Linked DNA regions of Homo sapiens: regions 2 and 3 are each linked to region 1. The links come from fine-mapping of genetic effects on gene expression. A gene starts in region 1. Each other region holds a variant in brackets. All regions are shown on one strand. Distances are from middle to middle. Region 1 holds the start of STX19 (syntaxin 19). Region 2 has its middle 150 kb from the start of PROS1. Region 3 overlaps NSUN3 (NOP2/Sun RNA methyltransferase 3).

Evidence for each region. PIP is the estimated chance that this variant, and not a neighbour inherited with it, causes the effect. A credible set is the group of variants that fine-mapping cannot tell apart.
Region 2: its variant is the best candidate, but not a certain one, in a credible set for the expression of STX19 in fetal neocortex (Walker 2019, PIP 0.52).
Region 3: its variant is the best candidate, but not a certain one, in a credible set for the expression of STX19 in spleen (GTEx, PIP 0.90).

What each region holds. Positions count from the first base shown.
Region 1 is chr3:94,026,821-94,029,592 of GRCh38, forward strand. STX19 (syntaxin 19) reads right to left here and starts at 1,777. Exons shown (of 2, transcript NM_001001850.3): 1 at 1,547-1,777. The region is part of intron 3 of ARL13B (ARF like GTPase 13B); the gene reads left to right.
Region 2 is chr3:93,822,497-93,825,268 of GRCh38, forward strand. No RefSeq gene overlaps it. Among named protein-coding and RNA genes, the nearest start is that of PROS1, 150 kb to the right of the region's middle. The variant A/T (reference allele first, on the strand shown) is at 1,666.
Region 3 is chr3:94,106,898-94,109,669 of GRCh38, forward strand. The region is part of intron 5 of NSUN3 (NOP2/Sun RNA methyltransferase 3); the gene reads left to right. Among named protein-coding and RNA genes, the nearest start is that of NSUN3, 45 kb to the left of the region's middle. The variant G/A (reference allele first, on the strand shown) is at 1,609.

The DNA.
Region 1 (2,772 bases):
TACTAGCAAGAACTGTATCTGTGAGCTTAAACATGATATTTAAAAAAGAAAGAACACTAACTCGTATGTATGATAATCAACTTGGACAACTTGTTCTGGGAAATAGAAAAGTAAACTGGTGCGACTCAAATAAAAGGTTCTCTGCCCTATTACAGACACTGAAAATCCCTAGAAACAGAAACATGAGTAAAAATTACCTTGTACTTTTAGAAATATGCCCTGGGATAGATACTTAGTGTATTTATAGATTTTTTTAAAGTAGGCCATTTCTTTTCATAGTTACTGTAATGATTAAATAAAACATTTCAAGAAATATGACCAGTTTTTACCCAAGAGAAAACAGAATATTCTGTTGCTTTTGTATATGAAGTCAACTTGCCACATTTTTCTAGTGCAAGTGAAAGCAGAGGATCTTATTGTAATATATTAACCTCTTTGGCTACTAAAGTGAGGGCCAAATAGTAGTTTCTAAAAACTAAAAAAAAATTGCAAATTGCATATATTGTCTAATTTTGAAGTATCTGACTTTTTTTGCAATGTAAACTTTCAATGCTTTTTTCTACATTTTATTTAGTCTAAATAACTTATTGAATTAACTTGTATAACAACATTAAGATCATTTTTGTTTAAATATGATGTATAATTTTTGAACTTTTATCTGATTCAAGTAAGCTGTACATACATAAAATGATTTTTATATTACATTTAAAACTGCATAGCTGTGAAGATAATGTGTTCGAGGTATTACGTGGCCAATTCTCAAGTCCACCTTTAAAATACATATAAAAGTCATTATTATTTTGATTTGAAATGGAATATTTATTAAATTCTAACATAGTAACAATTATAACTTTGAAAGTATCTAACCTATCTACATATGTTGTATTTAAATGATGCTGATTTAAATTTTTCAAACTATCAATTAAATGCTAACACTTACGTTAAATGGTATAACAAGTATTTTTAATGTACTAGTTGAAATATTATAAAGGTTAGTGAGTACTTCGATATTTTCTGGTAGCCCTTTCACAAGATTATTTTCTCATTTTTTCAATTTTAGAAGATTCTAGTAAACAACAATGAAGCAATTAAGACCATTATAGCAAATTATTTCAGATTTTTAAGGTTATACGTATGTGTCAAATTTGGGTATAAGCTGCTTTTCAGAGTGAAATATAAAAATGTTCTCTAAAGTAAGCACATTCATAGTCTGTCTATAAAAGAAATAATTTTAGATCTGTTTTTACATCTGACTTTCTAGTATTTTTTAAATGAGAGCTTACTTTTTAAAAGACTTAAAAATTTTTTCTTTCCTCTAAAGTTGATTTTTATTATCGTAGTCTATTTTCAAGAGCTTTATACCCAGATCCCAGTCAGCATGTCAGTAATATATGTGAACAAATCAGCTACTGGTACCCCGGTCCAAATCTGAGCAAAACAAGTAACCCTCATTATTTGTTGAGTGATTTTTAAATGTAACAGTGTAACCAGATGTCAGTCTATGGATACCTCATATTAAAAAGTACAGAAAAGAGTCATTATTTACCTTTCTGTTTTCTTCCTTTTGTTGGTTTTCCACCTGCGGTGTTGGAGTCCTGCCTTTGAGAGAATATCTGAATATCATCTCATGTTTTGAACAAATTATCTAAATCTCTGTCTTATAGGGCACAGACTAATTTCTGTATAGTTTTCATGTTGTTAATTTGAAAGCCAAATAATGAAGTCAAATAAGAGATAAAGTTGTACGTTTGCTGTTAATAGCAAGTGAAAATAGATTGCTTACTTCACACCTGGAGAATCTGGTTCTGCCTGTTAGACGCCTATTCTTTAGATTAAAGGAAGATCATTTTCATTGGAGCTAGTCGGTAACAGGAAGTCCTCGTTAAACTGCCTACGTAGAGTATTTGGCACTGGATCTGCAAATTTAGTCCTACATTGTATATGTAATATATTATTCCAAGAAAATGGGTTTGTATTTAAACAAAGGTTACTTTCTTTTCTATAGATATCAAAACTTACTAAAAATATGGAATTAAATAGGAATGAAAAGAAGCTTGGTGTAAAAGCTTTTTTTGTTCCATTTACTTTAAAATGGTTGAAATCTGTCCTATTTTAGGAAATCCCAAAAGAGCTTAGCTCACAAAATCATAGAATTTCAGAAGGAGAACATCCAGGAAAGAGCTCATGTCTGTAAACCATTCATCCCACGTTACTTTTAATTTTTTTTACTTTTTATTATGCCTGCTGTTTTTATTTTAAAATAAATTTTATATAGAACTAAAGTTATCCAGCAATATATGTTAAATCATTTATTTTGTCAATATAACAACTCAAAATTAATTTATACCAGAGGGAAATGTTTATAGGAAGAATTAAAAATGAAAATTTCTCTTGTACTACCAAATTTCAGACCCATTTTTTCTACCTGACTTGTTACTATTTGAGGGCAAGAAGAAGGAAATTGCTGTATCTATCAAAATCATATATATATATATATATATATATATATATATATTTATTTTTTTTTTATTTTTTTTTTTTTTTGAGAAGGAGTCTTGCTCTTGTAGCCCAGGCTGGAGTGCAGTGGCACGATCTTGGCTCACTGCAACCTCCGTCTCCCGGGTTCAAGCAATTCTGCTGCCTGAGCCCCATAAGTAGCTGGGATTACAGTTGCCTGCCACCACGCCCAGCTAATTTTTTTGTAGAAATGGGGTTTCACCATGTTTGCCAGGCTGGTCTCGAACTCCTGACCTCAGGTGATCCACCTGCCTC
Region 2 (2,772 bases), 200 kb before region 1:
ACATGGACCACTACCTGTCTGTGGCCTGGGGGTTGGGGACGCCTGCTCTATGCCATTGTCAGATGACTGTAGTTAACAATAATACATAATTTCACATAGCTGGAAAGAGGATATTGAACATTCTCAACACAAACAAATAACTGTTTTACATGGGTATGTTAATTACCCTGATCTGAATACTATACATTATATGCATTGAAACATCACTAGGTACCACATGAGTATGTACAATTATTATTTGTCAATTTTAAAAGTTAAATTTAAAAAGAATCATTTTATTAATGTATAAAGTTCTGTGAATTTATTGATAAATTAATGGCTAATGAAAATAAGTAGATGGCCTGCGTCCATTATTATTTGCTCCTATTTAAGAGAAAATATGTTAGGTTTAACAAATGATTGCAGATAAATTAATTGGGAAAATGAATTTACTTTGTACATATTGTACCTTCTTGGATTCCTATTATTTGGGGAGAAATTTTATATTTTTTTCTTTATATTTGATACTTTAAAGACACTGTTTCACTGAGTTTGGAACAAAAGCAGTAACTTAGATTTCTGCTTCTCAGCAAATAAACAGCAGGTGAAGTTAAGAGCTTGATTAAGGAAAAGATTACCAGTGCTATTCTTTATTCTGCAACCAATAATTTTACAGTTAACAGGAAATAATAGGCCAGCTTTTTCTCCAGTATAGATGTTTTCATAGGAATTCTTGTGATGTGATTGCCAAGAATAGATTTCTATGTCTGCCTAATGTACACTGAAGAAATGATACATTTTTAAAGTAAACCAATCAATTTCTTCAGAGGCTCTCTTTTATAAGGACAAAACAAAATAGTCAACCAAGGATTCTAAGGCACTTAAAGAACGTTTCAAAGTGTAAATTACAAAAACCCATAATGTAAATAAGCACCAAGTGCCATCTCAAAACTTAAAAAATGTTGTTGGTTTTTTTTTCTGAGTTTGAGACTAAATCATTAGATAGGATATATACCAAGCTGTATGTTTGTGAGTTTTTCTTTTACAGGATGGGAATTACTTAGCAAATTTTTACCACCCAGCAACACAAATGGCTCACAATTAAGTGTAAGACAAATCCATATTGTAGAATCAATCATTGCTGTATAGAAAACTCAAGTAAAACTAAGATCATGTTAATTCGGAATCTCAGTCAGATTGATGTTTGAAGTCTACAATGCTATCACACTGTAGTTGTTCTTCAACTGTTCCTTTTTTTTTTTTATTTTGTTTTGTTTTCTTCCCCCAAATCAGACCCTCATACTGGCAAGTTGAATTAAAAACTTGTCATAGAGACATCTGTAAATGATTCTGTACCCAATGGCTATGACCAGACTCCAAATTTAATTATGTGTAAAATGATAAATGAAACAGAAAAAGTGCCAAACTTAATTAACATGCTGAATATTAAGTGGATTTAGTGGATATCATATTTTAAAGATTCCAAAATTTAATAGGCACTTAAAGCAAATGCAGTATTTTCCTTTGCATCACACACTCTATTCATGAACGACAGCATGCAACAATTGATTTAAAACATTTTCAAAACTGTGAGTATGTTTTTCCCCACATAAATTCATCATTGATGACACCATATGGCTCCATTAATGAAGAAGCTAGGCCATGCCAGGCTATTACCATGAATCG[A/T]GAAGATAGTTCCTTGTCACCAACCAGAGCCTGCTCATTTTTTGTCCTCTGGGCTTAACACAAAAAAATTTTCTCATCATTCAGATTTTTTTCTAGTTTGAGATATTTTCCAGGATTCTATTTTTGTTTAAATGATTGAGGAGTGGTGAGTTATGTCCTGGCCTTTTGGTTAGCAATCTCCTTTCATGCCTGCATAGATCACTGATAGGAAATTAGCAATGATTGCAAATGCCAGTTTTCTTCAAGTTGTGAGTCAATTGCAGGAAAAGCATGCATTCACCCACATCAACTAATATTTGCAAGGTAGTGGTGGGTAATAGCAAAGAGCACAAGTCTGGAGCAGAGTACCTGAGATTGAGTCAGTCCCTGTTTTGTCACCTTCACTTTGGCCAACTTAACCTTTCTGCATCTCTCTTGCCTCAATTGCTAAAGGAGGATAAGTGTAAGGTTATTATTAAGATTAAATAAGTTAATATGTATAACTCTTAAAATATATGCTAGTTATGATTATTATATTTCATAATTTATAGTTTCTCAGAGGATATTTTGATCATTTAACGCTATAACTGTTTCTTCTATTCCCAACGGCAAACATATCTGATTTATCTATGCTACTGATTCTTAAAATTGACTGCACATTGGCATCACCTGGACACATTTTAGAAATACTCATAACTGGTGTAGGCTGCAATGCAGGCATGGGTTTTTCAAAGCTTCTGATGTTTTGAATGTGCAGCCAAGCTTAAGAACCATTGATCTATGTCCCTTCTTACCTAGATGGATTACCTCTAGAAAAGAGAGTCAGAGTGAGATTGCGGGTAGTTTATGCTAATTTCCAAAGTCCTCTATGACCTATGACTGTTGTCTCAGTTCATTCCTACTGCTAGAAGAAAATACCACAGACTGGGTTCTTTATAAACAACAGAAATTTGTTTCTCACAGTTCTCGAGTCTGGGAAGTCCAATATCAAGACACTAGCAAATTGGGTATCTGGTGAAGGCTAGCTCTCTGCTTCCAAGATGGTGCTTTGTTGCTGTGTCCTCACATGGTGGAAGGCAGAGGGGCAAAAGGAGGGCCTAGATAGTCTCCTTCAGCCCTTTTATAAGG
Region 3 (2,772 bases), 80 kb after region 1:
TGCTTCAGGGAAGAAAAGAAATGGTTAAAGATGTGGTTTTACCATTTGTTAAATTATATTGTAGCAATTAAAACTTTTTTTTTTTTCTTGAGACAGGTGCACTGGCACAATCTCAGCTCACTGCAACCGCCACCTCCCACGCTCAAGCAGTCCTCCCACCTCAGCCTCCCAAGTAGTTTGAACAATAGGTATACACCAGCTAATTGTATTTTTTGTAGAAATGAGGTTTTGCCATGTTGCTCAGGCTGGTCTCAAACTCCTGGGCTCAAGCGATCCGCCTGCCTTGGCCTCCCAAAGTTCTGGGATTACGGGCATGAATCACTGTGCCTGGCCTAATTAAAATATTTCTATTGCTGTATCAAATTAGGCATATATATGTTTTGTTGTTGTTGTTTTGTTTTTGTTGTTGTTGTTTGTTTTGAGGTGGAGTCTCACTCTGTCGTCCAGGAGTGCAGTGGTGTGATCATGCCGCCTTGACCTCCTGGGCCCAAGTGATCCTCTTGTCTCAGCTTTCTGAGTAGCTGGGACCACAGCATGTGCCACCACACCTGGCTAATTTTTTATTTTTTGTAGAAACAGGGGTCTCTCTATGTTACCCAGGCTGGTCTCAAACTCCTGTACTCAAGTAATCCTCTTGCCTTGGCCTCTGAAAGTGCTGGGATTATAGGTGTGAGCCACCATGCCCGGCTAATTTTTTTTTTACTAGATTAATTTTCTTTAAATCAGACAGTCTACTGTCTCCTGCCCCACTCTCCCAAACTCTGTTAGGTTTCCCTTTTGTTACTAGAAAGGCAGTGTAAGGGACAACTGACATTTTTAAATGTCTTAATGGTATTTTGGGGACACCATATCTCAATTTTAAAACAGTGGCCATGTTCCGTAAAGTCAAGTTTACTTTAAAAAGGTTACCAAACTGTTCTACTCAATCAGAAATGAGACCACAATTGCTAAGTAGCTGCCCTCATTAACAGGCTATTTTACTTTCTGTAGGAATTTATTATTTACGACCCAGTTGGCAGGAAGAAAAACCATTCTCATTTTTATAAATTACTTGTTAGCAAAAGCTTTTTTTTTTCCTTTTTTTTTTTTTTTTTCAGATAAAGCCTCTGGCCTCTATCATTTCCATTTGTTCTATAACATAAAAGTTAGAGGTTGCTTCAACTATTCTCTACTCAGAATTTTTTTTGATAAAATTTTTATTTTGATATAATTTTAAACTTAGAAAAAAATGTAAGAATAGTACAAGGAGCTCCTGTGTGCTCTTTATAGAGATTCATCAACTGTTTTACATTTCACCACGTTTACTTTTTTTTATTATTATACTTTAAGTTCTGTGATACATGTGCAGAACTCTATTCAGAATTTTTGTTAGTTTCAATTAAATATATTTTCTTTGTTTTACACTGAAAATTCTCTTCCTGACCTGCCTCTTAATAAAGGTAGCATTTATTTGTTTTTTGTTTGTTTGTTTTATTTTATTTTGAGACGGAGTCTTGCTCTGTTGCCAGGCTGGAGTGCAGTGGCACGATCTTGGCTCACTGCAACCTCCGCCTTTCAGGTTCAAGTGATTCTCCTGCCTCAGCCTCCCGAGTAGCTGGGACTACAGGC[G/A]CACGCCACCATGCCCAGCTGTTTTTGTACTTTTAGTAGAGATGGGGGTTTCACCATTTGGGCCAGGATGGTCTTGATCTCTTGACCTTGTGATCCACCCACCTCAGCTTCCCAAAGTGCTGGGATTACAGGTGTGAGCCACCGCGCCTGGCCTTTTTATTTTATTTTTTTGAGACACAGTCTTGCTCTGTTGCCCAGGCTGGAGTGCAATGGCACAATCTCAGCTTGCTGCTCACTAAGGCGGAGGCCTCCCGGGTTCCATCAATTCTCCTGCCTCAGCCTCCCAAGTAGCTGAGATTATAGGCACCCACCACAACACCTGGCTAATTTTTTGTATTTAGTAGAGACGGGGTTTCACCATGTTGGTCAGGCTGGTCTCGAACTCCTGACCTCAGGTGATTCACCCAACTCGGCCTCCCAAAGTGCTGGGATTACTGGCGTGAGCCACTGCACCCAGCCCATTCATTTATTTAATAAATATGTTATAAAAATATAGTTTCCGGTTGTGCTGTATGTAAAAAATACAAAATGAATGCAACACAAACCCTGTTTTCAAGCAGCTAAAAATTTATTCCTTGGGAAAAACAGAATAGGGAGAAATTCCATGGAGAATCAATGAAAGTTTCAAAGACTGAGCTCTGAAGTGGGTCTAGGTGAAGAGACCATTTTTATTCACTTTTTTTCTAAGTGACTACAAGCTCATTCACCTAGTTAAAAGGAAATTTTATGATTTTTGTGGCAATTTGTGTAAGCATTAGAACTTTCTGAGCATCTAGAAAGAAGAGGCAAATAATTTTAATTCCTTGATTTGGTAGTTAATTACACAAGAGTGTCTATCTTGCTTTGAAGGGGCAGAAGTATTGCTAGCTATGTATCGGAGTTTGGTCAGAGTAAAATCTCCACAAATGATATAAGAGATTTATTATTGGAATTAGATATTATTTAATTAAGGGAGCTGTTTAAGTAGTCTGTTTTATTGCGTCACTGCTTCTGGTGGTAGGCTTTAAGTGAGCAGGGCTGGCAGTTAGCACGTGAGGTTAGCGGGGAGTAAAAGACACACTAGAATCCACGAAGACAAAAGATGAAACACGTCTCTTCTCTGCACATCCGGTTTGATGATGTGAGCGATCTGCAGAAAAGTTGGTGGATTCCACCATGGACCTG